Regions from separate parts of the Homo sapiens genome. Here all the other regions are linked to region 3. The links come from fine-mapping of genetic effects on gene expression. A gene starts in region 3. Each other region holds a variant in brackets. All regions are shown on one strand. Distances are between the middles of the regions.

The links. PIP is the estimated chance that this variant, and not a neighbour inherited with it, causes the effect.
Region 1: its variant is fine-mapped to the expression of PRKCB in tibial artery (GTEx, PIP above 0.99).
Region 2: its variant is fine-mapped to the expression of PRKCB in spleen (GTEx, PIP above 0.99).
Region 4: its variant is fine-mapped to the expression of PRKCB in blood mononuclear cells (TOPMed, PIP above 0.99). The same link has a PIP of 0.9 or more in CD4 T cells, T cells and whole blood.
Region 5: its variant is fine-mapped to the expression of PRKCB in cerebellum (GTEx, PIP above 0.99). The same link has a PIP of 0.9 or more in cerebellar hemisphere.

Annotation. Positions count from the first base shown.
Region 1 is chr16:23,910,580-23,916,885 of GRCh38, forward strand. The region is part of intron 2 of PRKCB (protein kinase C beta); the gene reads left to right. Among named protein-coding and RNA genes, the nearest start is that of PRKCB, 78 kb to the left of the region's middle. The variant G/A (reference allele first, on the strand shown) is at 3,451.
Region 2 is chr16:23,921,188-23,927,493 of GRCh38, forward strand. All of the region lies in intron 2 of PRKCB (protein kinase C beta), which reads left to right. Among named protein-coding and RNA genes, the nearest start is that of PRKCB, 88 kb to the left of the region's middle. The variant G/A (reference allele first, on the strand shown) is at 2,535.
Region 3 is chr16:23,833,066-23,839,371 of GRCh38, forward strand. It overlaps PRKCB (protein kinase C beta), which reads left to right and starts at 2,918. Exons shown (of 17, transcript NM_002738.7): 1 at 2,918-3,283; 2 at 4,310-4,341. The coding sequence starts at 3,111. RefSeq lists silencers at 2,414-3,053, 3,084-3,163, 3,494-3,573 and enhancers at 2,527-3,074, 3,075-3,620, 3,884-4,023.
Region 4 is chr16:24,031,713-24,038,018 of GRCh38, forward strand. PRKCB (protein kinase C beta) reads left to right here. Exons shown (of 17, transcript NM_002738.7): 4 at 424-535; 5 at 3,707-3,835. Among named protein-coding and RNA genes, the nearest start is that of MIR1273H, 170 kb to the right of the region's middle. The variant G/T (reference allele first, on the strand shown) is at 3,622.
Region 5 is chr16:23,996,395-24,002,700 of GRCh38, forward strand. All of the region lies in intron 3 of PRKCB (protein kinase C beta), which reads left to right. Among named protein-coding and RNA genes, the nearest start is that of PRKCB, 160 kb to the left of the region's middle. RefSeq lists an enhancer at 3,612-3,681. The variant G/T (reference allele first, on the strand shown) is at 2,410.

The sequences.
Region 1 (6,306 bases), 78 kb after region 3:
TTATTTTCATGGGAAACTTAGAGTTATATTCAGAGATATTGATTTTTTTAATCCCATTTAAAAATAATGTTTTAATTGAGATAAAATTCATATAATGTAAAATTCACATTTTAACCATTTAAAATGTACAATTCAGTGGTTTTAAACATATTTATAATGTTGTAAGCCATCACCACTATTTAATTCCAGAACATTCTCATCACCCCCGAAAGAAACCCTGAACCCCATTAGCAGTCGCTCTCCATTTTTTTTCTCTCTTCCCTGCGGCCCCTGGTAACCAACAAACTAATTCCGTTTCTGTAGATTTGCCTATCCTAGACATTTTGTATAAATAGAATCATACAATGAATGATCCTTTGTGACTGGCTTCTTAGAATAATGTTTTCAAGGCTCATCCAAGGCATGTATCAGTACCTCATTCCTCTTAATGGTTAGATCACTTTCCATTGGGTGGATGGACCATATTTTGTCTATTTATTCATCAATTAGTGAGCATTTGAGTTGTTTCCACTTTTTGGCTGTTATAAATAGCCATAAACGTATATATGCTTTTTTTTTTTTTTTTTTTTTTTTTGAGACAAGGTCACCCAGGCTGGAGCGCAGTGGCACAATCACAGCTCATTGCAGCCTTGAACTCCCAGGCTCAAGTGATCATCTTCCACCTCAGCTTCCCAGATAGCTGGGACTACAGGCATGTGCCACTATGCCCAACTGATTTGTTTATTTTTTGTAGACACAGGGTCTCACTTTATTGCCCAGGCTGTTCTTCAACTCCTGAGCTCAAGTGATCCACCCACCTCGGCCTCCCAAAGTGCTGGGATTACAGGCATGCGCTACCATGCCTGGTCCAATTTTTTGTATAAGCATGTTTTCAATTCTCTTGGGTGTCTTCCTAGGAGTGGAATTGCTGGGCCCTATAAGAGCTCTGTGTTTAACTTTTGCAGGCCATTTCCTGAGTGACTTTAAGTTGAAAAGTAAGTCAGTTTAAAGAAAACTATTAATCATATTGCAGATGGTGTGTGGACATGACAAACGTCATAAACGTGGTTTGCAGTGATGGAAGAGTAGAAATCCTGCTTGGACATGACCTCCTCCATCAACTGTTTCCCACTCACCTTTCCAGCCTGTGGTGCCTCTGTTCCCAGGAGCCTCAGTGCAGCCACGCTGGCCTCTGAACTGTCTTACATGAGATGTCCTTCTTCAAAGATACTGCCGTTTGTCTTGTCCTGGGATATGCGCGACCCACATTTTTTTTTTTTTTTTTTTTTTTTGAGATGGAGTCTCACTGTTTGCCCGGGCTGGAGTGCAGTGGCAGGATCTCGGCTCACTGCAACCTCCGCCTTCTGGGTTCAGGTGATTCTCCTGCCTCAGCCTCCCGAGTAGCTGGGATTTCAGGTGCGCACCACCATGCCCAGCTAAGTTTTGTATTTTTAGTAGAGACGGAGTTTTGCCATGTTAGCCACGCTAGTCTCGAACTCCTGACCTCAGGTGATCCACCCACCTCCGCCTCCCAAAGCGCTGGGATTACAGACATGAGCCACTGTACCTAACTGCGCCACCCCTTTATACCCTCCAGGGAGCTGGACTTTTCAGAGATCATCTTTCACTTAGAATCTACCGTTTAACCCTTAATTGCATTTCCCCTCATATTATTATACTCACTAATGATTTTGTTGGAGAATCTTTTGCCTCTGCTATAAGCCACTTGAGGGTAGCATCTATATTCAAGTAGTCCATTGTTCCTCTCATAGTGCAGCCTCACCTGATCAATGGTGAACAGCTGCTGATGAACAGAACCTTCCCTGGAGGCCCCTGTTCTACTGAATCTTGGTCAGCCCCGTGTCCTGATGCTTGCCCTGCTTGCTGTTACTTTTTGCCTGTGGTTTTACTGTTTAGTTAACTTCTTCTTTTCCTTTCTTTCTTTCTTCTTTTTTTTTTTTTTTTTTTTTTTGAGACAGAGTCTCTCTCTGTTGCCCAGGCTGGAGTGCAGTGGCGTGATCTAGGCTCACTGCAGTCTCCGCCTCCTGGGTTCCAGCGATTCTCCTGCCTCAGCCTCCAGAGTAGCTGGGATTGCAGACGTGTGCCACCTCACCCGGCTAATTTTTGTATTTTTAGTATAGATGGGGTCTCACCCTGTTGGGCAGGCTGGTCTCGAACTCCTGACCTCAGGTGATCCACCCTCTTTGGCCTCCCAAAGGGCTGGGATTACAGGTGTGAGCCACCGTGCCTGGCCTTTATTTATTTATTTATTTATTTATTTTTTGATATGGAGTCATGCTCTGTTGCCTAGGCTGGAGTGCAGTGGTGCAATCAAAGCTCACTGCAGCCTCGAACTCCTGGGCTCAAGTTGTCCTCCTGCCTCAGCCTCCCAAGTAGCTGGGACTACAGATATGTGCCACCACGCCCAGCTAATTGTTGTATTTTTTATAGAGACTGGTCTTGAACTCCTGGGCTTAAGCGATCTGCCCACCTTGACCTCTCCAAATGCTGGGATTGCAGGCAAATCAGATTGTTTCACAGACTTCAGAATGGAGGCTGAGGTTCAAGGAGGTGGACACCAGGCAGCCCTGGGAGGCCATCTTCCATCCAGTATGTAGAGTAAGGAACAGGAAAGCAGGTGTACCGAGAGGCAAGAACCATGAATATGGACAAGGAGAAGCCGAGAGAACACAAGGGGAGACCCAACTGTCTTCCAGTTCCCAGTTCTCTTCCTTTCCTTCAGCCAGACCGACCTTCCTCCTATTGGGCCCAAATCATGTCAAAAAAAAAAAATCTGACTGGCCAGGCTTAGTCAAGGAGGGGATCATAGAGTCCCAGTGCCATGGGTGAGGGAGGCAGTCAGTGTAGACATCATATCACTGGGGAGATAAGCCTTCAATGGTGCCCACTATTGGGTGAAAAGGCAGACCTGGAGCTCTGAACTTCAGCTTCCCCTTCTTCCCAAGGTTGTAGAAGTGGGAAAGCCAAGCTAGTCATTTCTGAGTGCGGGAGGAGAATAATGTGACAAAAATGGTTAACATCAGACTAGCTAGCCTTGAAAGCTTGAGTCTGAACGGTGATATCTTAGGAGAGGGGAAAAAATAAGCATGAAGCTGTGGCTCTGCTCCATTTCTGGGGAAGGAAGCTCTTCTGACTTTTCTGGCTCAGTGCAGGAAGGGTTGAAGAATCTCTTAAAATCTCCTGAGTCCTCTTTGTCCTTCATCTCAGAATTCCTGTGCAGGTGATGTTTGGCTGTATGCTCCACGAAAGGAATAGGGAACTTGGCTCCCTCCCTCCAGGGACTGTTGCTGCTCCTCTGAGTTTCCTTAGCTTAAGCTGTGCCCCCTGTGTGCCATTTGCCTTGGGACAGAGATGGCCCCCATTTTCCAATCCTGTTGTAGGGGTGGGAATGCTCCCCAGTATGTGAAAATATCCCCAAGCTGTGTTTTTTTTTTCTTTTCTTTTGGGGCA[G/A]GCTCTTGTGTTGCCCAGGCTGGAGTGCAGTAGCACAATCATAGCTCACTGCAGCCTCAAATTCCCAGGCTCAAGCAATCTTGCTTCAGCCTCCCGAGTTCCTAAGTAGCTGAGACTACAGGCATGTGCCTCCCTGCCCAGCTAATTTTCATTTTATTTTATTATTTTTGGGATGAGGTCTTGTTATGTTGCCCGGGCTCATGTCAAACTCCTGGCCTCAAGTGATCCTTCTGCCTCAGCTTCCTGAACAGCTGAAATATCCCTAGGCTTTTAAGCCTCAGTTACTTAATCAACACAGTGGGGCCAGTACAGCCCATCATTGGCATTTGTGGATTTGGCAGTGGTGGTTCCTTTTCTCATTAGCTACCCAGAAGATCCTTAGCACAGCATCATAAGTCACTGTCTTGAAACTCCACCCTGAATTGGATGCTTGGTGAGCATCTGGGAGAGGCAGAATGGTGTTGGAACCAAGATTGTGGGCTCTGGAGTGAGATTTCTCTGTAAGTCTGGACACCACCCCTTGGTTGGGTGATCTTGGGCAAATTAATTAATGTCTCTATGCCTCATTTTCCTTGCCCATAAGTGCGGATGACATAGCACCCACCTCACAAGGCTGTTGGGAGGTTTAAATGAGTTAAGACCTGCACAGCCCTTAGAACAGGGAGCTTTCAATATGTGTTGGCCACAGCTCTTGTGCCCAATCGATTTCACTCATTTGGGCAATGCCTGGGTTCTAGATGAAGGGGGAGGAGGCTGCCTGTAGTGTCTTCTTCATGGGCCAGTCCAGCTCTGCAGTGGACTGTACTGGTGATGTCCACCGTGCCTCAGCTTTTAAGCATATATTCTCCTTGAAAACTATTTAAGCAGAACACACTGGGGTCAAGCCAGTCCAAGCCAGATGTTTGGGGTCCTGGGTGCTTCTGTTTTCTCCATGTCTGTTTACCTTTAACAAGATGGATGGGGGCTGTGAAGCCCCTCTGGGCAGCCTTTTCTGGCTGTGACATGCACCAGAAACCCACTTTTGGCCTGTTTGCACTGTGTTAGAAAACAGCAGGTGCAGTTGGCAGCCTCTCCCCTACCCCTTCTCCCGTTAGCCCCTGATCTCTGGGGACTCCTTAGACTAATGCAGTTTTAATGAATACACATTACTGTTTACATGACTGAAATGAGAGGCTGGCTGCTTATTTTATGCTGAGGTTTACAGCCCTGCCTTTTAAAACCCTCTCTCCCTTGCTCTGCTTCTGGCCATGGCGATATTTTCTGGCGGCCCCTATGCTGTCCCTCCAAATAAGGAATTCACCATGAAGTCCTGCAGCAGTGTCAGAGCCATTGCCTTGCCCCGGAAGGAGTGAACTGTGTAGAACAAAAGCAGAGGCTGGGAGCTGTAGTTCACGCCTGTAACCCCAGCACTTCGGGAGGCAGAGGCAGAAGGATTGCTTGAGCCCAAGAGGTCTAGACCAGCCCTGACAACACAGTGGGACCCCAGTCTCTATAAAAAATACAAAATACAAAAATACAAAAATTGATGACCTGCACCTGTAGTCCCAGCTACTAGTGGACACTGAAGTAGGATGATTGCATGAGCCCAGGAGGTGGAGGCTGCAGTGAGCTTTGATTGCACCACTGCATTCCAGCCTGGGCAAGAGTGAGACTCTCTATCAAAAAAAAAAAAAAAAAAAAAAAGCAGAAAGATGGATTCTTTATTTTTTTAATTTAAAAATACTTTTTACAATTCTTAAATGCTTGCTTATGATAGAACAATTAGAAAATGAAGGTATACAAAGAGAAGAAAATAAAAATCACCTCTAATTCCACTACTCAGAAAAAACTCGATCGTTAACATTCCTGTTTATGTTTTAGCATATTTTAATCAATCTACATTTATATGTATTTTAAATTAAAATTAGAAACCAAACTTAATACATGTTATTCAGAAATCTGCTTTTTACCCTACCTCACAATTAATATATGATGAATGTCTTTCCGAGTTAAGAAATATAGATCTGCAGTATCTTTTCTTTAATTTTAATTTTAATTTTTTAGAGACAGGATCTTGCTCAGTTGCCCAGGCTGGAGTGCAGTGGGGTGATCACAGCTCACTGCAGCCTCAATCTCCTGGGCTCAAGCGATTCTCCCACCTCAGCCTGCCGAGTAGCTGGGACTACAGGTGCATGCCACCACATGTGGCTAATTTTTTTTTTTTTTTTTTTTTTGAGACGAGGTCTTACTATGTAGCCCAGGCTGGTCTTGAACTCCTGGCCACAAACAAGCAGTTCTCCCACCTCAGCCTTCCAAAGTGCTGGGATTACAGGCTTGAGCACCATGCTCGATATTGCAGTATCTTTTTTTATGCATCATTGTATCCTATTCTATAATTGTTTCTATGGTCTCATTTGTAGAAAGGTTAACATTAAATTTCGAATAGTTATATGTACTCACTGGTTCAAAATTAAAAAGGCACAAGAGCTTTAATACTTTTATTGAAAGATTTCTCTCCTATCCCTAGCCCTTAGGCCACTCTGTTCACCTCCTTTTTGGCACCCAATATTCAACTAATAATACCAATTTATTGTGTATACTTCTGGAAATAGTTCATAATGTACATGCACATCATATACATTTATTTTTCTCTTCCTCAAACACGTACATTCAAATGTTAGCTTACCTTGCTTTCTTCACTTCACAATATCCTGTATCTTGGTGTTTGTTCCATGTCAGTGCATATAGAACATCCTCATTCTTTTTTTTGAAACAGAGTCTGGCTTTGTCACCCAGGCTGGAGTGCAGTGGTGTGATCTTGGCTCACTGCAGCCTCTGCCTCCTGGGCTCAAGCAATCCTCCTACCTTAGCCTCCTA
Region 2 (6,306 bases), 88 kb after region 3:
CCATATCACAGGGTAATGAAGAATGTGTGCCCAAGTAGTAGAGGGCTTAAGAAAACCACTCTTGGGCTCTGAGTCTCTCTAGGTCTCAGTTTCCTCATCTTTCAAATGGCAATATTAATAAGACCCACCTCATAGGGATTGTGTGGGGTTTAAATGAGAAAAGACAGGTAAGGTGCTGGTACCTTATAAGTGATTAAGTTGCCATTAAGGTATTGGGGACTTAGTGCTTGTCCTTGAAGAGCTTTCGGTCTCGTGAGGAGACAGCCTGATCGTTATAAACTATTATAGAAAATGGGAAGAAATAAGGGTTGAGGTGTGATAAAGATGTGCTAGGCCAGGCAAGATGGCTCACGTCTGTAATCCCAGCACTTTGGGATTACAGGTGGGCAGATCACTTGAGGCCAGGAGTTCAAGATCAGCCTGACCAACATGGCAAAACCCTGTTTCTACTAAAAATACAAAAGTTAGCTGGGTGTGGCGGCACCCATCTGTCATCCCAGCTACTTGGGAGGCTGAGGCAGGAGAATTGCTTGAATCTGAGAGGCAGAGGTTGCAGTGAGCCAAAATTGCACAACTGTACTCCAGCAAGACTCTGTCAAAAAAAGAAAAAATAAATAAAAAAAGATATGCTATACCCTCATATCACAATAATGCCAGGAAATAGATCATTAATTCTGAACCCTAATTCTTGGGTGGGCATCAAGGCAGGCCTCACAAGAAGAAGGCATTTGAGTTGAATCTTATAGGCTCAGCTGGGTTCCAACAGCAAAGACTTAGGGAAAGGGCAGAGCAGGCAGGGGAACAGTAAGAGCAAAGGCTTGAAGGCATGGAAGTTCATGGGTAATTACTGACTGAGATGTTTGGTGTTATGGTGCATAGAACACTATCGGATGATAATGAAAACATTGAATTCCAGCATGTTTAGAAGGACATTGGCTGATAAAAATGACGTCTTAATAGTTATCTGTGGACAAATTTGTAAATGTAAAAGAGTTGTAGACTCAAATCCTACAGAAATTAGGCAGGAGACCTAAATGAGTGAAGTGGGTGGGTATAAAACAGAGGTGGTGGCAGGAACCCATGTTGAATTGAATAGTGGGTGTTTTGTTTAAAGGGGCACCAGTAGTAATTTTTCCTCTGTTGGAATATGATCCTAGGGCTGCCAGCTCTTCTACTTTTTCAAGAGAAGCCAGAAATCTGGATTTCATGCAAAATTTCTTGTTTTTCTTTTTATTAAAGACATGGTATGGACCAAAAAAAGATGTCTCTAGGCTAGATCTCTGCAACCTCTCATCTATACTCTATTTGCATTTTTAAAGACTATATGCAAATGTTATTTAGCAGAGCTACCTAGTTTTTTTGTGTGATGATAGCATGTGAAAGAGCTATGATACATCTTGGAAATGTCAACTTTGAAATATACAGTGACTGTGTTGGTCACTACAGAATGATCTCTGCAGAAACTTCAGTTACATTTTCTCTAAATGACACCTTTGCTTTGACAACACATTTTCAAAAAGAAAAATAGCAAACTACCCTTCCTCCAGGGCCTTAGCCACAGTAGCTCCTGCCAGCATAACACAATGCTGCACCTTACTGAGGGATCAGGAAATGTGGTTTGATTTATAATTATGGCTTCATGGGTAGAATGGTGGCCAATGTCCACATGAGCCACACTCAGTGGCTAAGATCCAGAGGGCATTTAATTTAGGTAGCCAGTGTTACAGACATAGTTTAGATTTTTGCAGCCTTGACCAATCTTAATAGATCTGTCTGTTCTTTAGAGTTACCTTTTTTTCCTGCCTCCTAGCTACCTACACCTTTTAATGCTAAATGTAGTTAGCTAGTGAATGCTGTTATTTGAATCTTAAAATTTCAGGTTGGGACAGAACCTTAAAATTCATGTATTTCAACCACCCTTTGTATGAGGCAGGAATCTTGGTTATGACAGGTGACAGAAAATTCAAACTAGCTTAATTCAGAAGGGAATTTATTGCCTTTATAAAACCAAAAAGTCCAAGGGTAGCTGCCTTCAGGTATTGTCTGATCCAGGGGTTTGTTATGTTTCCAGGACATGGTTTCCTTTATTCCATCTCTGCTTATGTATTGGCTCCCTTCTCAGATGGAAGAGACTCCCCTCATCAAGGTGAGATGGCTATGGAAGCTCTACTCACATTTCCTCTAGGTTCAAGTCCATGTAGAGAAGAGCACCTCTTTCTCTTGTTATATCTCACAGGCTCTAAATTAGCTACTAGGGCCAGTGAAAAAGCAATGTGCTGATTGACCACCCTTATCTACTCTTGGAGTTCCGGATGGAATTAACACTACCTGAATTATGTGGACCAAGAGTGGGAAAGGAATAGTTCTCCAGAAGGATATTTGGTATTGTTATTAAAATAAGGTTAATTGAATACTCACTGAACCATCTAATGCTTGAATTCCCTTCATAGCACGCCATTGGTGACTGTCCAATCTTCAGTTACTAACATGCTACCCCCAAAATGGTGTGTTTGTGCAGCTCTAATAATGACAGG[G/A]TTTCTCCTAATACTGAGATGATATTGGCATCTCCATAGTTCCAGACATTATTTCTGGTCCCAACCATAATCAACCTGTTTTGACACGGGTGAACATGTAAGGGAAGGGATTGCTCATTGTGGTCACAGAAGTAACCTACCCAATAGAAGCACACCAACTTGAAGCATGCTTCCATGATCACTGAGGGAGGAAAATGATTGGCAAGTCTCGTATTGGTCCTTGAAGCGCTCCCTATAAACACTTGTCACTGCCAAGCGTGTATCACTGGCCAAAGCAAGTCACATTGTGATATGATTAGACTTTGTGTCCCCACCCAAATCTCATCTTGAATTGTAATCCCCATAATCCCCATGTGTCTAGGGAGAGAACTGGTGGGAGGTGAATGGATCATAGGGGCAGTTTCTCCCATGCTGTTCTCATGATACTGAGTGAGTTCTCACAAGAGCTGATGGTTTTATAAGGGGCTCCTCCCCCTTCACTCCTCACTCTTCTCTCTCCCGTAGCCATGTGAGAAGGTCCAAGCTTGCTTCCCCTTCGCCTTCTGTCATAATTGTAAGTTTCCTGAGGCCTCCCCAACCATGCGGAACTGTGAGTCATTTAAATCTCTTTCCTCTAGAAATTACCCAGTCTCGGGTAGTATCAAGATAGCAGTGTGAGAACCGACTAATACGCATGGCCATGCCTAACTTCAAAGCGGCTGGGCAAGTATCATATTGCTGTGTACTTGGGAGGAGGGGAGAATCAGAATATTTGATCTGGCGACCACCACACAACTGAACTTCTCTATTTCTGTGTTCTTCTTGTTAACCATCTAGTTTCTGTTTCCTCTTGTGACACATATATTAATTAATTTTTCAATACCCAAACACAAGCCTCTAATATTTATCTTTGTTTAGTTACTTCCTAATAAACTAAGATATCTCTACATCCTGATCCTAAAATTCAAAGGCTCCACGTATACCATGGTGACTAGTTAATTCCAATATATTGCATAGTTGAAAATTGCCAAGAGAGTAGATTTTAAGTGTTCTCACTACGAAAAAATGCATATGTTAAATAGCTTGATTTAGCCATTTCACTATGTATACATGTAGGAAAACATCATGTTGTACACTACAGATGTATACAATTTTTACTTGTCAATTATAAACAACAACAACAAAACTGCAAAGTCTCCTTAGACCCACCCAATCACATGTTGTCTGCTCATTTAATGAGTAAATGCTATATAGGTTCATTCTGGACCTGGGTAAAATGATTTACGGACTGGGACCAAGTGGGAGGACCCTATTTCAATTCATTAGGTAAGGTCTTCCAGGTCAATATTTGACCATTGATTGGCACATCTGGGGTATAGTTATTTAACTGCCTTCTAGTTTACCTCAATATGACCCCTCAGTGGAGGGAAAATGGAGCACAATGACTAGAAGAATGTTGAGAGATGAGGAAAGAGAGAATGGGATGGAAAGAACATAAAATAGGAAAGCATTGACATTGTCACTTCTTGGCTATTTCTTCCTGTAAAATTTTGCCTGGAGTGCCCTACAATGGGGTCCCCATCCTCTGCCCTGATAACATCTTAGTGGATCACTCCTCTCTCCCTTTTCATTCTGCAGGACTTGCCCATTGGGGCTCTTTCAGACCTGACTGGTCATTGGGTATCTGTGGCCATGATAATCACTCTCTTCCTGGACGTGACCCTCCTCTCGTTAACCAGGATGCCTGTGTTCTTAAGGTTGGCCGTTTCCAAGGACAGAGAGCTTGCATCCCATTTCTAGGGGACTGGGGATCCAAGGACTCCATTCTTGACATTGTCTTGTCAGCCTTGAAGTGCCGAAACCCAGCATCCCTGTCTGAGGTCATCCTGTCTCTCTTCCAAACATGAGGACTTCTTAAATTTTTTAAAAAAAGTTTTTACTTGTATAAATTGAGAAGGCACAAGTGCAATTTTGTTACATGGATATGTTATTTAGTGGTAGAATCTGTGCTTTTGGTATGTCCATCACCCAGATAGGGTACCCTGTACTCATTAAGTGATTTCTTATCCTTCACTCCCCCACCCAACCCTTCCAAGAAGGATGACTATTACTCAACAGTCATTCAGTAGCCATTGGAGAATGACTATTATTCCATACTCTGTGTCTATGTGTATTATATAGTTCCCATTTATAACTAAGAATATGCATTATTTGACTTTCTCTTTCTGAGTTTTTTTTTTTTAAGATAATGGCTTTGGGTTCCATCCTGTTGCTGCAAAAGACATGATTTCAGACTGGGCATGGTGGCTCATGCCTGTCATATTAGCACACTGGGAGGCTGACGAAGGAAGATCACTTGAGCCCAGGAGTTTGAAACCAGCCTGAGCAACTTGGTGAGACTCCGGCTCTATAAAAATTAAATTAGCCAGGCATCGTGTTGTGTACCTGTGGTCCCAGTTTCTTGAGAGGCTGAGGCAGGAGGATCTCTTGAGCCCAGGAGTTCAAGGCTGCAGTGAGCTATGATCACACAACTGCCCCCCAGCCTGGGTGACAGAGTGAGACCCTGTTTTAGTCAGGACTTCAAGACCAGCCTTGCCAACATGGTGAAGCCCCATCTCTGCAAAAATACAAAAATTAGCTGGGCATGATGGCGGGTGCCTGTAGTCCCAGCTACTCAGGAGGCCGAGGTGGAAGAATCACTTGAACCCGGGAGGTGGAGGTTGCAGTGAGCCGAGATTGCCCCACTGCACTCCAGCCTGGGCGACAGAGTGAGACTGTTTCAAAAAAAATAAATAATAAATAAATAAATAAAAATAAAATCAAAGGTCTTACTCTTTTTTATGGCTGAGTAGTATTCTATTGTGTGTATGTATATATAGATATACATACATATACCACACACATACGTGTATATATGTATATATATGGTGGTATGTGTGTCTATATACACACAATGATATGTATATTAATATATATGTATATATAAATATATATACATTTTCTTTATCCAGTCATCCATTGATTGATGCTTAAGTTGATTCCATATCTTTGCTATTGTACTGTGATAAACGTATGAGTGCAGGCATCTTTTATATAATAATTTCTTCTTTGGATAGCTGCCCAAAATTCAGGTAAAAGATCTCAGTCTACAAGGCAGCTCCCAAGCTTCAAAAAATTGTCCTGCCAGATTTTTAAAAGCAAGTTTTCTCAAAAGCTTCGATGTATACATTGGTCGATTTATTTATCCATTAAAGTATTTATTGAATACTTCTTACTGCGTATGGTGGTGGTGGTGCTGAGGTGTCTCACAGTGAACACAACAGGCGTAGCCTCTGCTATTACCAAAATTATTGTCTGGTAAAGAATGCAGATGGCTAACCAGGCAGGTGCCTGTACGGTGAGATATGTGCTGTGATGGCTGTAAGCGCATGGTGTGAGCGTAGAGTTGGGTGCTTAATTGAAGGCATCAGGAAGGCTTCCAGGACTAAATGATATCAAAGTCCCACCTTAAGGATGACAGGTTTAACTAAGTAAAGGAGGATGTGGAAAGAAGGGGGAGAGTGCTCCAGGCAGAGGAAATAGTATATACAAAAGCACAAGAGGATTGAAGAACCAAAATCACTTTGGCATGGCTGGAATGAAGGGCATGTTTGTGTATTTTCAGGGTAGGGGATGTGTTTAGGGACAAGCTCAGAGAAAAGGAAGTAAGGAACCCTGTCATAAAGGGCTCATCTGTCCTATGAAAGAGTGTGTACATTTTATTCTGAGAGTACAGAGCCTTTTCTTTTTTCTA
Region 3 (6,306 bases):
CTGCCCTGCAGCTCCTGTTGGCACTATGCCATGTTGCCCTAATCTCTTGCCTGATCTGCTCAGTTGACCTCTTCACTGCTCTTCCTGCCTCCACCCTTTCTCCTCTAATTTCCACATAGTAGCTAGGGTAAGCTTTTAAAATGAAAACCCCATAAGTTGTATCAGGCCACTCCTCAGCTTCCAACCCTCCAATGGCTTCCATTCACTGGAGTGAAATCCAAACTCCTTATCACATTTGCAAAGCCCTTTGGGGCCCTGCTACCTCCCTGACCTCATCTCATAAGTCCTCTCTCCTCTCTGTTCATCCAACCACTGAGGCCTTCTCGCTATTTCTCCAACATACCAAGCTTGATACTCCCCTAGGCTCTTTGCATTTTCTGTTTTCTCTGTCTGGAAACTCTCGATAGTCCCCTGGCTCACCCTCTCACTTTATTCAGGCCTTACTCAGATGTCCCCATATTATAAAGGATTTCCCTGTGGTCTTTATAATAATGCTTTATTTTTATTTACAAACATTCTATTATACACCACCAGGTATGGATTCGTTAGTTGGTTAGGTTATTACTCCCCCTTCCCCATTAGACTATAAGCTCCACTAGGGCAGGGACCTTTGTCTGGTTTGTTTAACAGTATCTGGAACAGCACACAGTAGGTGCTTAATAAGCAATTTGTTGATTGAAAGAACAAATGTATGAGTGAGGGAGGAATGTAGGCTCCATTTAGCTCTATCTTTTTTCCTAGATAAGTCAGAATCTGGATATTTAAGTAAAATTCTATGACCCGTGAACTTAAAAAACAACAACAACAACAACAACCCACTGGGCTAGCTTAAAAAAAATAGAGCATCTGGAGCCACCAGTTTGAGACCCTGACCTACAGGAATCTGGGTCCAATGGGAACCACATTTCTCATCCTCACTTGGTGCAACGCCTTCAGGAACCAAGTGGCTCTTTTCCATCCACAGCCCTTGCATCCCCAGGCCCCGGCGCCATGAGGTACTGTTTGTTGTTACAGACCAAAGTCATCCAGGGCACTTCATTCAAAAGGCAGGATGTGGGCTGTGAGCTTCCAGCTCATCAGTTCAAAGGAAATCTACTTCAGCAGCAATGTCTCCTGGGATGTTTTCCCAAGCCTCCCTGGGAGGTGGTGGGGCCTCTTCAAGGACTAATAATAGACAGGCACATCCAGTTTCCCAAACATGTCAACCTTAAAAGTGAATGCTATTTTTTCCTCCTTACCTTTGAATTACTATGTAGGAGAGGGACATTCTATTATTGCAGCCCTTGCTCTCGACATGCTACCTAATAATGACTTACCACTCAGCAGCTTCCAGGCAAAATTGTCATAGTGGGACCTGAGCTCGTGCAACTCCAGCCTGCCCCCCTTCATCCACCACTACTCAGGTTCACCCCTTTGTCACCAGGATGCTTTGTAGTCAGGCCAGCCCAATCACCATTCAGCAACGGTATGACTGTGGGTGTATCTTAATCACTCTGAACCTCCCCATCCTTATCCATAATGAAAGTTACCAGATCTACATAGGGTTGTTGCGGGGGCTAAATAAGACAGCACAAGTACCTGATGCCCAGCAATCACTTGATATTTATTATTAAACACCTACTGGGTGTGAGTGGGGGTAAGAAGTGCCGACCTTTAAGTCTTCATTCATTCACTTGTTCATCCATGCCCTCACTCAATCAACCAATATTTACTGGGGTCTTGGGAGGTGTCAGGCACTGAGCTTGGTGCTGGGCGACATGGTGGTGAACAGCCCCCCTGCTCTCACAGAGCCTAGGTCTGGTGAAGGAGCTCACAGCCTAATGAAGCTCTGCGTTCCCAGAGTGGGGGACATGGTGGCAGTGGGTATCTTTAGGCCTTGTGCATGAACAGGGCGCTAAATAACATTGAATTACACATTGTAGACAATTATTACCCTTTCAGTTACCTTCAGATCACATCAAGGAGAGAGTCCTGGTTGGATAGTAATGTCTTTAACACCCCTCTAGCATTTATTAATTTCCTCTCTTAACAAATAAAAGATGACTTCAGTCGAAGATGCTTAGGACAGATGACGGCACCTGGAGATATTTTAATAATGTAGATACCTCTTGCTGTTCAAACTCAGACCAAAAGAGATAGGCTTTTTTTCCCCCAGAGGGTGCACAAATACGACCAGAATTTGTGAAGACGAGTCAGAAATGAATGAAATTTGGAAAAATATTGATCTACTGAAATCCTTCCTCCCCACACTATTAGCCCTATGTTACAGTTGGGGAAACGGAGTCGTTTTGCAGAGGGGATGGACAGAAGGTAGGGAGTTCTCTTCCAAACGTGCAGGAGGCAAGCAAAGCCAAGAATCTTCTCTGTGGTGGAGTTAGAGACATATAAAATAAAGATCGCTCCTCCCCTACCTCTGCAGAACGTGTGTGTGTATGTGTGTGTAAGTGTGTGCGGCCACAAGCCTTTCCGAATGAGTGACAGCGGGAGCCCATCCCTCCAGGAGACGCGTGCAGAATGACCAATGGGATGGATGGGGGTGGATGGGTACCAGTCTCCGCAGAGGCCGGGGTGGAATTCGCTGCGCCCCACCCCTTCCACCCGCTCCCCTTCGCCCCGTAGGTCTTTCCACTCTCGCTCCTCCCCTGGGCACATCTCCTGAACGCAGCCCCGGGGGCCGAGGACGGGGTGGGGTGGGGGGCGAGGCTCGGGTCCGACGACCCCGGGCTGCGGTCCCGGCGCTGCAGAGCTGCGGCTGTGCACGCTTAGCCGCGAGGCCCGCGGTAGCCCGGGCGCCGATATGTAAAGCAGCTGGCAGCGCTGGGCGGGGCCTGGGCGCGATGCAAATGAGGAGGGCGGGGCTGGCCCGGGGCTCCGCCTCCCTCCCCCGCAGCTGGGGCCAGCGGTGCCAAGCGCAGCTGGACGAGCGGCAGCAGCTGGGCGAGTGACAGCCCCGGCTCCGCGCGCCGCGGCCGCCAGAGCCGGCGCAGGGGAAGCGCCCGCGGCCCCGGGTGCAGCAGCGGCCGCCGCCTCCCGCGCCTCCCCGGCCCGCAGCCCGCGGTCCCGCGGCCCCGGGGCCGGCACCTCTCGGGCTCCGGCTCCCCGCGCGCAAGATGGCTGACCCGGCTGCGGGGCCGCCGCCGAGCGAGGGCGAGGAGAGCACCGTGCGCTTCGCCCGCAAAGGCGCCCTCCGGCAGAAGAACGTGCATGAGGTCAAGAACCACAAATTCACCGCCCGCTTCTTCAAGCAGCCCACCTTCTGCAGCCACTGCACCGACTTCATCTGGTGAGCGCGCGCGCGCAGGGCACCTTCCCGGGCCCCCGAGGGCAGCGCCGCGCCAGGGACCCCCTCTCCGCGCCCTCTGCGCCCTCCGCGCCCTCCGCACCCTGGGACCCCGCGTCTCCGGACTCCCGGCTCCGGACCCTGCTGCCCGGGACTCCCGGATGGACAGTCCTGCCGTTGCCCTGTCCCCACCCTGGTCCCAGACGGGCCGCCGCGGGGCGCCTCCTGCCCTCTCCTGCTCTCAGGCGCCTCTAGAGCGCCCAGGGGCGGCGTCGCGGGAGCCTTTGCTCCACCTGACTAGGAGCGCGCGGGGTCTGTGCCTGCCCTGGAGGGCAGCGCCTCGGGTGCTCTCCGACCCGGGGTTCCCTATCTCTCCGCCTGCTTCCGGGCGCGAGGAGCCCTCGCCCCCCACCCCTTGTTTCCGGGGGGGGCGGCGCCCTGGGTGTCCTTCTCTATCTCCCTGCGGGCATGGGACATCCTTTCTCACTCCTCTGTGCCTCCGGGCAGCGCCCTGTGTTATCTCCCATTGCCCCTCCCCGAGGGCCTGGGTTCCCCTTTCCACTCCTCGGTCACATCACTGCGGGCCCCTTTCTTCCCCAGTCCCTCCAGTAGTGGGGCATCCTTTCCTCCTTCCCAGTCCCCCTCCCAGAGGACACCACCGCCGCGGGGTCACTCTCGCCCTCCCTCTGAATGCGTCTTTATCTCTTCTCTTTTCCCGAGGGTGCTCGGGGCATCTATGGGTACATCTGTCGCCTGCCTTCAGCCCCTACCCCGACGGAAACGCTCCCCACTATCCCGCCACCTGGTGGTCGCAGCCTCCTCTCTTCTGCAGGAGTGAAGGCAGATGGGGGTTACAGCCGAGCTCCCACCTACCCCCACAAAGGCGGAAGACTCTTGGGCACCCGCCTGTGGCTGGGAGTTTGCACCTGGGGTACAGAGGCAGGGAGGAAGGCGGGTGACTCTGTGGGTAACTAGCTGGAGGCTGGGCCCCCCGGGCTGCCTGACATACACCTCCTTCTGCTTTTGCAGGGGCTTCGGGAAGCAGGGATTCCAGTGCCAAGGTAGGCTCTGGGGCTTTGGGGATGCTATTTGTGGGAAGAGAGGGTGAAAAATACTTTATAGAAGAAGTTACTGAGTTAGGCAGAGAGTGAAAGAATCACGTTGGTCGGAGTGACCTCCCAGGCTAGGAATTCTTCACCACAACAGGGTCCTTTCAAGGGGTGTGTGTGTGACTGGGGCCGATGGCGCTTGGGAGTCTTACATGCCAAGGAAGTTCACCTACCCTTCCTGCCTTCCCGGCTCTGGAAGAGTCAAAGCGGTCTCCTGAAGCAATCCTGGCATGGTCAGTTCCGCTGGGGGAGAAAGTGTTTTCCCGGGACGTTTCTGGGAGAACCTGTCCTCCTTAGTTCCCCTTTCTCTGCCCATGTCCCTTCCTTATCTCACCCAGGGAGGTTCTGCCTCTCCCTGCCTTGCAGAGGTCTCTGCAGGTGGCTGCCGCTCCTCTGCAGATGGTGCATCCCCTAGAAAGGCGACTGTGTTTGTCGCCTGGGCCTCCTCTCTCTCTGAAAGAAGTATTTCCAGAGGGAGTGTTTCTCAGATCCTGGTTTAAATCACCCTATCTTCTGGGTTGAAACAGAAAGGTCTCCAGGGCACTGGTTACCTGAGTTCTTGCATCTGGCTTGAGATCCTGGACTCTAACCAGGGGTATCAAACCTGCTGGTGGTGAGTTGATCACGTGTAAAGTGTCCCCCTCCCCCGTCTTTGGGGCTCATGTCTAAAAGACAGATTGCAAATTGGCTCTCCAGGACCAAAAGTTACCCGCAGCTCTGTGTAGCCCTTAGGGTGTCTTACTTGTGAATTTGATGTGAACGTTTTAGAACTGGGAGATTTCACATACACATCCTAATTTCCAACTTTAACTTTGCTGAGAAATGGTCTCACTTTCGCTTGAAAACAATCGTTTGGAGCTGAGAGCCGTCGTCGTAGATGGGGAACAGCCTTACCATTTTGTCTCAGTTGATCCCAGTGGGGAACACTTCACCCATTTCTGGCCCCTGTGGGCATTTAAGTTTGCAACCTCTCATCTGGAAAGTTTGTGTGTTATGTTTTCTTTTTAATTTAAATTTTAATTTTTCACTCTTGGGCTTGGTAAGATTGAGTTTGGTAAGAAACGGCACATTTCTGGGGTATTGTATCTTTAGGGGCAAAGTGACCACCACCCTGGTGAGCTGGGTTTAAATCAAAAGAAAGTATTTGAGTGTGGAAGAGTCTGACGTGATTTAGCACTGACTGACAGTTTTGTGGCTGCACCTCCACCCTCCAGGGAAAAGTAAAGTGATCCCTAGTGAGTGTAGGTGGCATCGTCAGTGGTGCAGAATGTTTGCTTGCTGGCAGCATGGCACTGTGCTCCTCTGAGACTCTTGCATACTCTTCTGAGATCGGGGTCCCGGTGGGCTCAGTGAGCCCTGCCAACCTACCCAGCCTGTCTTACCAAGATTTGGATCCTCTGCACCACACCAGAGGACTCCTCAAGTCTCTTTAAGTGGCAACAACTTAGGCCCTGGTGCAAACAAATTTGGATTGTTTTCTAGAACTTTGACCCCTCAAACAAAATGCCAATGGTGTCTTGGCACCGGAATGTGTAATTTCTTCTTTGAGGTTGCCTTTCACTTCCATGAATCAGTTTCAGTCTTTGTCTCTTGCTGAGATCGGGGGCGATTTTTAAACATTTTTACCACGGATCTTCTATGCCACCTGCTCTGCTGTTATTGATGGATGGGAAAGTCACTTTGGAATGTGCAAGGCATGACACATTTGAAATAGGAGATCCTTTAACTCAAAGTCTGGAAGATAATAGGAATTTTCTGATGTTAAGAGAAAAAGGCAGAATTAAAGTTTGTAATGAAATATGGGCGCTCTAGAGATAGGAGTGTCTTTTTTTTTTTTTTGACAGGGTCTCACTCTTTTGCCCCGGCTGGAGTACAGTGGTATGATCAGAGCTCACTGCAGCCTCAAACTCATGGGCT
Region 4 (6,306 bases), 200 kb after region 3:
ACTTGGGTTTTTGATCACTGCAGAAGCATGCTTGGAGAATAAAGGTGGGGAGAAAGAAAAGTCAGGAGCCCTGTTTAGATGATGTGTCTGTTACTTTGTTTTCCCATCTCTGGAGTCCCTACTACAGGCAGGAGCCTGTAGGTTGAGTTCCCAGGCAGGCCCAGATGGAGGGTTTGCAGGCAGGGTGAGTGAGCATGGGGCTGCAAAGGGAACAATCATCTGTCTTTGTCCTTCATTCCTTCCACAACTATTTATCCAGCACCGTTTCTGGGCACAGGGCTCCAGCGATGGTCCCAACAGGTACAATGACCTCTGGGGACCAAGTTCAGTTCTTGGTGAGTTCTCCAGTGCCTCTCGATGTAGGATGAACCGTTGGCATGCTCCACTGACGCTGGCTCCTTCTGTTGTTTCTCTTGGCTCCAGGACCCCCGCAGCAAACACAAGTTTAAGATCCACACGTACTCCAGCCCCACGTTTTGTGACCACTGTGGGTCACTGCTGTATGGACTCATCCACCAGGGGATGAAATGTGACAGTAAGTACTTTTTCTCTCTGGGGGCATCTGCTGATGGCAGAAGCAATGGGAAGGGCTGCTTCCACTTGGTTTGGGGTCCAGGTCTGCCATACATTCCCCCCTGTCCTCGTTGGGGCTGGTGTACCAGTTATCTGTTGCTGCATAATGATCCTCCCACCCCAAAACACTGTGACTGAAGACAATAAACATTTTTTTAGCTCATGACTCTGCAAGGCAGTTCTTTGAATCTGGGCTGGCCTCAGCTGATGTCACGCATGTTCATAAAGCATGAACTCATGGTTCATGGTGGATTAGCAGATGGAGGTGGGCTGGGAGCTGTCTGGGCCATGGTGGCCTCACCCACATGTCCTGGAGGATGGCTGGCTGTCATCTGGGTGATGGTGATGACCAGGCCACGTGTCTTTCCTCCTCAGTGGGCTAGGCTACCTAGCCTCCGTGCATGCACGGAGGTCACAGGGTCCTGAGTTTCTTAGGAGGGCAAGTCCCATTGGCAGCCACACTTCAAGTCTCTACTTGTGTCTTTTGCTCCTGATCCACTGGTCAAAGCAAGTGGCATGTGAGATGCACAGTCACAGTGTGGGAAGGGGCAGTCCATGGCTGTTGACACCCAGAGGCATGAACAAATCATGGGCATTTCTGCAGCCATGCACCACCACTGTTTTCAGCATTGAGATGTGGGGCTGATGCATTCTTTGCATGGAGAAGACCTGTGGCCCTGCAGCACCCACAGGTTTGTGCTGGAGGAGGAAAGAGCATCATTCTCTGGCCAGGATGTGGTAGGAAAGGCAGGTGGGGTAGGACTCCTCTTTATGAGGCCAAGGCCCGGATGGCCTGTGGGGCAGGGGAGCAGACAGGCTTTGAGAGCTATGGCCACAAAGCTACAGGGACACTGGAGGTGCTGGTGGCTCCCACAGACCTGTTGGTCTGCAGCAGGCTGGGTGTCATGAGGCTAGTGGTACTGCTCTCCCAAGGGTCCTGAGGCCCAGAGGACAGAGGGAGAAAGTCATAGGGCAGAGAGTGACAGAGAGGACTGTGAGGGTGAATAAGGGTGGTAGGGAGCAAGACAGACAGCAAGAAACACACATGCATAGACAGACACAGATGCAGGGGAAAGATGGACACATGCAACCCTAACACAGGGAGGAATGTGGGGCGTGGAAGCTACAGAGAGACTCAGCTAGAGAGAGACTCAGGCAAAAGGAGGGACAGGCAGACACACAGACCAACAGATAAGCCAGGTGCAGTGGTTCACTCCTGTAATCCCAACACTTTGGGAGGCTGAGGCGGGTGGATCACCTAAGGTCAGGAGTTTGAGACCAGCTTGGCCAACGTGGCAAAACCCAATCTCTACTAAAAATACAAAAATTAGCCAGTCAAGGTGGTGGGTACTTGTAATCCCAGCTACTTGGGAGGCTGAGGCAGGAAAATCACTTGAACCCAGGAAGCAGAGGTTGCAGTGAGCTGAGATCACACTACTGCACTCCAGCCTGGGTGACAGAGTGAGACTCTCAAAGAAGAAGAAGAAGAAAAGATAAAATGATTGGCATGGACACAGAGAGAGACGCCATTACACAGGCTCATGCAGAGGTATAGAGATGGAAAGACCAGAGACAGAGACAGAAGCACACATGGAGAGCCACAGAGAGACACGGAGGAGAGAGGCAGAGAGACACAGTTGGAGAAAGGGAGAGACAAAGAGGCCAGAGACAAGTGCAGAGAGTGGAACAGACCGATTCACAGACACGGCCAAGGCAGTGAGCCACGTGCAGAAGTGGGACAGCAGAGACAAGAGACATGCAGCAACGTGGAAACAGAGAGACAGACACAGAAACATGGCAAGAGCCACAGGGGGACAGTGAGGTTGGAGCCTTCTGCCTGCAGGACACCAGCTCCTCTTACCACACATGGGGCCCTAATATAGGGACAATGTCCCTGCCTCAGAGACAGTGGTGGGTGGGAGCTCAGGCTGGTGCTCAGGTCCCAGAGGGCTCTCCCTTCCCTCCCCACAACTCATTTCTAGTTTTTGTAATAGGCCTGCTGCCTCCTGGGACTTGGGTGGTCTGAGAAGGGTCCCTTGCCCCCAGATCCCTTGAAATAGGGGCCCATGGGGTGACTTGGCCTCTCCTTCTGGCTTCTCCAACTGGAACTAGCGTCCCCCTGGAGAATCCTGGGTGCCTGGCACACCTTCCTGGAGTGGGGCATTATTGCTCAAGACCTAGAAGAAATCACCCACCACATTGAAATAGACACAGATACTCTACGGAGGAGTGCGCAGAGGGAGTGGATATCCTATAACATGAGAGATGGCCGAAGGCCAAATTCAGTGTATAGGCACATTTTATCCACCCTGCCCTGGCTCTAAATCTTTTTCCTTGTAATTAATTATGGTGGACACTATGGCCAGCCCAGACCCCCTCTTCATGGTCCCACCCCATCCCCTAGCTGTGGTTCACAGCAGTGCCCCATCCTGCATAATTGCCCAAGATAATGCCTCTTCCAGGGAGACCAGATGATTGTGGTGCCCAGCCCTCTTGTCTCAGTTTGGAACAACTCTGAAGGGTCATCTCAGCTCTGGGCTCCCCCTAACATCAGCTTTGATTGCATCCACGTGGCAAACGAACTTCTCCCCACAAGAGCACTCCCCAAAAACCTTGTGCTCAAAACTCCCCGTCTCAGACTCTTTCCAGGGAGCCCAACCTATTAGCTGTTAATATTTAAAAATCAGAGCTGTCACGTACACATCGAGATTCCTGCATACGTTGAGAAATGGGGAATGTTTTTGCTCTGTTTCCCACTTGGCTTGGCCAAGTCCCTGCCACCCCCTTAGCTTTCCTCACTCATGTGACCAGCCAGCCTGTGAGCATTGAAGTTGGTGACTCTGGCTTCAGAGCCTTAAGGGGTGTGGGGTGTGCTTGCTTCAGACTGCACCCTTGGCTGTGGGTGGGGAACAGACAAGTTCTACCTCCTTTGCCCATCAGGGTTCAGGGGGAAGAGTTGGAAAAGCCCTTCTGATGAGATCCTGGCAGGCAAGTTGGTCTCAGCCAGGCTCGTGTGTCTCAGCTGTCTCAAAGGAGGGAAACAGGAAG[G/T]GCTCAGCGGTCTTGGGTGGGGCAGATGTCTGCAGCCCCCAGCCTGGGCCAGCCTAAGCCACATCCCCTCTCTCTGCCCTCACAGCCTGCATGATGAATGTGCACAAGCGCTGCGTGATGAATGTTCCCAGCCTGTGTGGCACGGACCACACGGAGCGCCGCGGCCGCATCTACATCCAGGCCCACATCGACAGGGACGTCCTCATTGTCCTCGGTAGGTGGCCCTGGGGCTCCACTGGCTCCTGACCTTGCTTGACCTGTGTGATTGAGAAGGGGAGGGTGGCGGAGGGGTGGGGCAGTCCAGTGGAGGGGTGGGGCAGTCCAGGGACGGGGAGGGGGTGTGGCACTGCTTCTGCCCCATGCCCTGCCCATGACAGCCCCTCCCTGCAGCAGGGGGATCTTTAGAAACTGTACACCCTCAAAGCTTCGTCCATCAGCACCCCAGGCTGACTTGGGTTCAGAGAGGAGACGTCTGAGTTCCTTGGACTTCTAACTTCCTCAGGATCCTCCACTTCCCTTCTCTCCTTCTCATTTCCCACTCTTTTTTAGTAATCTTTTGGGATGGGTAGTTGCATTTCCTTTACTCAGATAGCAGAGAAGGGAAGCTTGCTTCTTCCGCAAACTTTTCCAGCAGGAAAAATGGAGTCTTGATGATAAACCCCAGATTTGGAGAATATAATATCTTGGGAAGGAGGAGGGTTGGAGGGTGCAATTCAGGGGCTTTCCACATATTTGAAATATTTCTTTCTTGAACCTGATGGTGGCTATGCTGTAATTTTATTATTCTCTATATTTTCTGCATGTCTAAAATATTTCATGATAATTAGAAAGCAGGATGGTACAGTCTCCTGGGAGATGCAGTGAGAGGAGGAGCTGCTGGTGGTGGTGGTGGTGGTGGTGGTGGGGCTGTCACTCATGTATCCCAGCATTCAAGACATACCTGGCTCTGATATGGGAAGTTCAAGCAAAATTGGAACTCAGCAGCACTGGCTTGAGGAATACTCAGCCATAAGCCCCGGTATAACCAGCACTGAGCTGGCTGGGAGTGGAGCTAAAACTTTGCAGGAATTTCTTCTCAAAGGCTAGTGACAAACTACTGTGGACTTTATATATCTAATGAATATAAATAAGGGTTTATGAGTTGGTAACTCAGGAAATTGATCATGGAAGAGATTAATTTTGCAAAAATTAGTGTTTCTGAGGCCTCAGACTGGTTCAGTAGCTCTGATGCATTGAGCCCTGGGTTGCGGAGGGGCTTTACGTAGATTGTGTAAAAGCTGAAAAATACTTATCCCTGTACAATATAATTCTTTTAAACTTGAGATTTCGTGAAGCCCAGTGAGATTTTAGAAAATGTGCAATCCATTGCATTATGTTTTCCTCCAAGTGGTCGCCTGCCTCCCAGTGTGATGCTTGGGGGCCCCAGGGGAAATCCCGCAGTTTCAGGTTCAAGGGAAGCCAGTTTTCCCCACTGATTGAGGTTCCCGATGCTGGTGAGACAAATATGAGACTCTGCTTCCCTCTGGTGTCATTCTGTGGGAAATACACTCGTTCCAAAGCATGACTGCGGGCAGCCAACATTTATGGGCCGCATGGGATGTGCAGTGCTCTAAACCTTACGTGTTATCTCTTTCCACCTTCACAACATTGTGAAATCTCTATTATTCTTGTTTGAGAGGGAGACTCCATCTGTTGCCCAGGCTGGAGTGTGGTGGCGCCATCTTAGCTCACTGGAACCTCCACCTCCCGGGTTCAAGCGATTCTCCTGCCTCAGCCTCCTGAGTAGCTGGGATTACAGGCGCCCACCACCACGCCTGGCTAATATTTGTATTTTTAGTAGAGACAGGGTTTCACCACGTTGGCCAGGCTGGTCTAGAACTCCTGACCTCAAGTGATCCGCCCATCTCGGCCTCCCAAAGTGCTGGGATTACAGGTGTGAGCCACTGCGCCCAACCTTCTATTATTCTTGTTTTATGAACAAAGAAGCCACGGCTCAGAGAAGTTATATTCCAAGAGCTCACACCATTTGCAATAATAATAAAACAATAGCTAAGATGTGTTTAGTTTTTAAAATGTGTTAATCATTGTGAAAAGCACTTACAGGCAGTATCTGATTTACATTGTTTCAACAACTCAAATGAGTTAAGTTATCATTCTACCCATCAGAAAACACATTTCCTCACCTAGGTCTGTTTGACTCAAAAGTACTATATAGTAGGTTACTTTTTTGTTTAGTTTAGTTTCGTTTCGTTTCTCTATGCCCTCCACCGTATTTATTCCTTTTGTGGTTTGGCTAGGGCACCTCCTATGGGCATTCCTTAGGGAGTCTTTGTTCTGATGTGGTACAGTACAATATTTCTTCAAGTTCAAGGTCAAAGTCTTCCCCCTTAATCATAGATATGCTGTGAACTTTGAGAACCTGGATCACAAGCCCCCGCTTCTCAGGACACACTGATAGGAGGTGTATCCATTTGCTGTGGCTGCCATAACAAAATACCACAAACTGGGTGGCTTAAGACAAGACGTTTAAAAAAAAAAAAAAAGAAACGAAAAGAAAAAGAAAAAAACAATAGGCCAGGCACAGTGGCTCATGCCTATAATCCCAGCGCTTTGGAAGACCGAGGTGGGTGGATCACTTGAACTCAGGAGTCAGCCTGGGCAACATGTCGAAACATCATCTCTACT
Region 5 (6,306 bases), 160 kb after region 3:
AAGGCTGACCTGGCTATGGCCACCGCTGAGTGCTCAATCTGCCAGCAGCAGAGACCAACACTGAGTTCCTGATATGGCACCATGCCTAGGGGTTATCAGCCAGCTACCTGGCGGCAGGTTGATTACATTGGACCCCTTCCATTATGGAAGAGGCAGCATTTTATCCTTATGGAAATAGACATGCTGGATACAGATTTGCCTTCCCTGCCTGCAGTGCTTCTACTGAAACTGCCATTCATGGACTTAGAGCATGCTTTATTCACTGTTATGAAATTCCACACAGCATTGTGTCTGATCAAAGAAATCACTTCAAAGCCAAAGAGGTGGGCAGTGAACTCACACTCATGGAATTCACTGGTCTTACCATGTTCCCCATCATTCTGAAGCAGCTGGCTTGATAGAATGGTGGAATGGCCTTTTGAAGAGTCAGTTATGTTGCCAGCTAGGTAGCAATACCTTGCATGCCTGGGCAAGATTCTCCAGAAGGCTATATATGCTCTGAATCAGCATCTAGTATATGGTGCTTTTTCTCTGATAGCCAGAAATTTATGGATCTGGGAATCAAGGAAGTGGAATGGGAGTGGTACCACTCATTATTACCCCTAGTAATTTTACCACCAGCAAAATTTTGCTTTCTTTTCCCATGACTTTATGCTCTCCCAGCATGGAGGTCTCAGTTCCAGAGGGAGGAATACTTCCAGCAGGAGACAGAACAATGATTCTATTGATAGTTAACACTGCCACCCAGCCACTTTGGGGTTCCCATGCCTCTGAGTTAACAGGCCAAGAAGGAAGTTATGAAGTTGGCTGGAGTGATTGATCTGGACTACTAAGGGGAAATTGGACACTACTCTACAATGGAGAAAAGGAAAAATGTGTCTGGATACAGGAGATCCCTAAAGACATCTCTTAGTATTACCATTACCTGTGATTAAGATCAATGAAAAACTACAACAACTCAATACAGGCAAAACTATGAATGGCCCAGACCCTTTAAGAATGAAGGTTTGGGTCACCCTGCCAGGTAAGGAACCACCACCAGCTGAGGTGCCCACTGAAGGTAAAGGGAATACAGAATAGGTAATAGAAGAAAGTAGTTACAAATACCAGCTATGACCGTGTGACCAGTTACAGAAACAAGGACTGTGATTGGCATGATTATTGGCATTATTTTGTTATGGATATGTTTGTGTGTATATATACATATGGTGAGCAAATATCTTTGTTTTCTTTGCTCTTTTAGTTCTTTATCATGTAACGTAAGATGTATTGACTTTATATCAGTATTTTTATGTCTTAGTATTTAAGTTATAGGATACCAGGACAAGAGGAATCATTACTCAAGGACTTCATCTCCTTTTCTGGGGAGGGGATTATTGCATTTTCAGTTGTACAAAGTCTAATTGTATCACATCAGGTGGAATTATGTCCTTGTTATTCTTTATTTGGAGGTTCTTTATTTAAGAAGGTGTGTATGGATGCCAAGTTGAGAAAGGGTGGACTTGTGATGGTTAATTTTGCACATGCAGTTAACCTTGACTGGGCTAAGGGGGGTACCCAGATAGCTGGTAATACATGATTTCTGGGCATGTCTGTGAGGGTGTTTTCAAGAAATTATCATTTGAATCAGTAGACTGAGTAGAAAAATTGCCTTCATTGACATAGGCAGGCACCATCTAATCTGTTGAGGACTCAGAACAAAAAGGCAGAGGAAGGGTAAATTCACTCTCTCTTTTTGAGCTGGAACATTAATTTTTTCCCGCCTTTGGGTGTTGGTGCTCCAGGTTCTCAGTCCTTCAGACGTGGACCAGGACCTACTCCATTGGCACCTATGGTTCTCAGGTCTTTGGGCTCAGATTTCAAACATTGGACTAAACTATACCCCTGGCTTTCTTGGTTCTCTGGCTTGCAGATGGAAGACTGTAGGACTTCTTGGCTTCCATAATTATGTACACCAATTCACGTTATTGATTTTTTTTTGGAGAACCCTGACTAATACATTGTGCCTACACCGTAGATGAGGGCGTGAGTGCCCCTTCCATGGATTGAGAGTGGGGAAGAGGTAGTTTCTCTGAGGAAAGCTAGAGAAACGGTATTGTGTCCTGGTTAAAATCACGGATTATGGAGCCAGCATTCCTAGCCTCAGATCTGTGTGACCTTGGACAAATAACTTAAATCCATTTATGCCTTAGATTCCTCAGCTAAAAAATGAGTTAAATAATAGTTTCTACTTGATAGCATTGTTATGAGTATCAAATACATAGATATCTGTAAAAGCACTTAGGACAGTGTCTGGTGCATGGCAAGAGCTATATATGTGATGATGATGATGACAATGACAATGAATAACAGTGCACACATGCTGAGCAGCCAGCAAGGACAGGTGTCTTGTCAGACAGACCAGGAAAG[G/T]GTGAAGAATGAGCAGGTTCTCTGTCTGCCACCTGGCAGTCCTTCCTAGAAGTGTGGAGGCTCTGTAAGTGGCATGAGACCCCTCTCTGTATGAATGAAGGAGTGCAGCCATTCATTGCCTTGAGCATGAGGAGAGCAGGAAGTACTCCCTGCAGCCAGCATGCATAGGATTTGGCAGCCTACCTGAAATGATTCTATCTCTGGATACAGTTCCAAAAAGGTCAGTTGGCACCAAGGATGATGAATTGGTCCAGACACCTGAACTGGCTTGACTCAGTTCATTGACCTTTTTCTGCTCATGGTTGGAGGCATGATTAAAGACCTAGCCACACCTGCTTGCCCACCTGGCCAGACTCTCCTTTAGCTGCCCCTGATACTCATGCAGGTATGGAGGGGTGCCCTCTCCTTCTGCATGACCTTGGAGGAACTGGTGTGCAGCAAGTTCGTGAAGCAGAAACACACAGGCGGTGACCTTGGACAAGGCTCCATCCACGATAAAGGATGTGCTTGGTTGCATCCTCTACCCTCTGCTGTTCCAAGCCCAGTCTGAGCCAGGCAATATTATGGATATTAGTAGAGCTTTGTGCTGTTGGCATTATCCTACAGCTATGTTCACATCATATCACATTGAGGCAATTTTATGAACCAGGCACTGTCCCGTGAACCTAGCTACTGAGCCAACCATTCAATAACAATGAGAATAGACAACATTTATGGGCACTCGCCATTGGAGGGCCACAAAGTGTGGCAGAGTTCATGGATGATGCTCCTGGTCACCCACAGTCATCCTTCTTGTTCTTGATCTCACCAGGCAGGAAATCCTCAATTCATCTGTCTCTTGTACCTCTTAGAGAGACCAGGTCTCTGGTACTGTCATAAGCATTACTTATGGACATTATAGGTTATTCAGCACTCAGAATACTGACCACATACACAGCCTCCTGTGACATCTCAGAACAAGAAACAGAGGAGTTGTCTCTGAGGGTTGGGACTAGGGTGAGTCAAGTGAGGTACTTTCCCTGGGCACAGTTTAAGGGGTTCTTGTCTGTGTCTGTGGATAGCTGGTTGGTTGGCTGGTGGGTGGATGATCTAAGATGGCCCCTTTCACATGACTGACGACGAGCAGGTTGTCGGCCTGTGTGATTTGGCTCTCGTCCATGTGGCATCATCCTCCATCCAACTGGCTAGCTCTGACTTGTTCATATGGTGGTTTCCAGGCTCCAAGAAGAGCAAGAGAGCATCTCCCAACACTTTTTAAGCCTTTGTATCATGTTTGCTAATGTCCTAAAAAGCTAGTCTCTGGCCAAGTCCAGATTCAAGTGGTAGAAAAATAGATTCCAGTGCCTCATTGGAGAGGAAGTATCTATGGTTAATCTATTGCAGATCCTGTTAACCCAAGAGGCCATAGCAGAACAGAACCCCTGGAGACCATCACACTGGACTTTATAAAAATCTGCATGTTATAGTGTGGCTCAGAGTCATAGATGGCCTCATCAAAAGAATGCACCTAATTTATTCCCTGCCTCAATCGCCAGTGGACTTAACCACCTCTAGCTATAAGTGGTTAATGTGGCAGTTTATTGATCACGTCAATGGTGGTTAAGAGTATGGACTCTGAAATCAGACATACCTGAATTTGAGTCTTGATTCTGCCCAGATACTCATTAGGAAAACTTGGGCATGTCGTTCGACTTCTCTATGCCCTAGTCTCCTTATATGTAAAATAGGATGTTAGTACCAACCACATAGGTTTATAGTGATAATTTTAAAAATATTTAAAATGAGAAAGAGTTCACAAACAAAAGACAAATGAATTTCAAAGCCCTTACATGAAAGCGCTTGGCACAGTGCATAGCAAGCCCTTGGTACATGTAGCTAAGGCCATTTCCATTGCTCCACCTAGGTCCATAATCAAGAATGTACTGACAATTCTCTACATTCTTCCACCCAGAGCATGCCCTTATGAGGTGATTACAGTTTCCATTTCCATTACTTCACACAAACCTCAAATTCTGTGATGCAGTGCTAAGAAAAGAACTCAAACTTTGGAGCCAGAAAATGCTGGTGTCAAATTCCAAATGGTCTCTGCTATGTATTGCTCCAATGACCTTGGGAAAATAACTTTAAGTTCTGTGACCCTCAGTTTATGTCTTTAAAATAGAGAAAATAATACCTAAATAAAGCGGTTTTTTTTTTTTTGGTAACTATTCAATAGGAGACTGCTTGAACCATCCCTAGAATAATGTCTGGCACAAAGAAGGCACTCAATACCTGGTTTTAAAATCATTATTAATGTCTGGAGGAGCCTCTCCTGCTCTATAAGGGATACAGGTTACCCTCTGACCTGCCAAGAAATAATAGCTAATAATAATAGCTAACTTTATTGAACAGGGTCTCTGGGCAGGCAGTACAAAAGGACTCTTTGTCTGGTTTGTCTAAAGATACCTTTTTCAACACTTTATGGCTTTAGAAATAATTTCTTATGATTTATAGTCAAGTTACTGAGTAAAACCCACTGTTAGGTCCTGTGATCTCCTAATTCCATCACTAAATCAGGTCAATTAGAGATGGTAGACACTAATGTTGACCTTATCCTTTTGATCAAGTCTCACTTTGTGATAAGATAGATTAAAAATCATAAACTTGTTAAACTTGTTAAATGTTGAAGATTTGATAAAACAGAAATGAAAGTATTAAATGTATGTATACATTAAAGTATGTAAATAAGTGAGAACATGTTTGAAAATCTGGTTGAAATGGATGATTTTCTCATAAAATTGTCAATTTTGTCTCAAAAAGAAATTGAAAACCAGAATAGGCAAATAACCGAGAAAGAAATGAAAACATTATTCAAGGATCTTTTCTTCTCGTAAAACCCCAGACAAATATGTTTCATGGGTAAAACTTCTTAAATTTTAGAGCAACGAAGAATTTCTGTTCATTTAAAATTGTACCTGATTACAAAGAAGAAATAAACCTTTACAATTTTTTTTAAATGAAAATGAGAGAAATCCAGCTCAAATTAGCAGTAGGAAAAGAGGGCCCATTGACTCCTGAGAAGGACATTGGGAGTAGAGTAAGAGCTTCAGGACCAAGGACCTCAAAGGCTGGAACTGAAGCTCCAGTACTTGCAAGATACTTTTCCATTTCTGCTTTATTGGTTAGTTATTTTGCTCTGTAACAAACCATTCCAAAATTTAGTGGCTTGAAACATCAGTTATTTGTGGTTTCTCATGATTGTGTGGGTTACTTGGGTGATTCTTCTGACCTGGGTTTATTTGGGTAATCCCTGCTGGGCTCTGTCCTGGGTCTTGGTCAGCTAGTGGCTGGGCCGATGCTGGATTACCTAGAACAGCCTTGCTAGCATTGACTGAGGGCTGGCAGGCTGTCGATCTGGGCATTTCATTTTTCCTCCATGCGTCCTCTTTTCCTCCACCAGGCTAGCTTAGTTTCACGGTTCCAAGCACGGCAAGAGAGGGAAATCCCAAAGCACAGGTGTGTGTGTGTGTATGTGTGTGTGCGTGCGTGTGTGTGTGTGCGTGCGTGCGTGTGTGTGTGTGAAATGGAGTCTCTTTCTGTTACCCAGGCTGGAGTGCAGTGGTGTGATCTCGGCTCACCGCAACCCTCCCAGATACAAGTGATTCTCCTGCCTCAGCCTCCTGAGTAGCTCGGATTATAGGCACCCACCACCACGCCTAGCTAATTTTTGTATTTTTTGTAGAGACGGGGTTTCACCATGTTGGCCAGCTGGTTTTGAACTCCTGACCTCAAGCGTTCTGCCTGCCTCAGCCTCCCAAAGTGCTAGGATTACAGGTGTGAGCCACTGCGCCTGGCCAGCATAGGTGTTTTTTAAGCCTTTGTTTGTGTCACAGTGGTTATGGACAAGATCAGATTTGG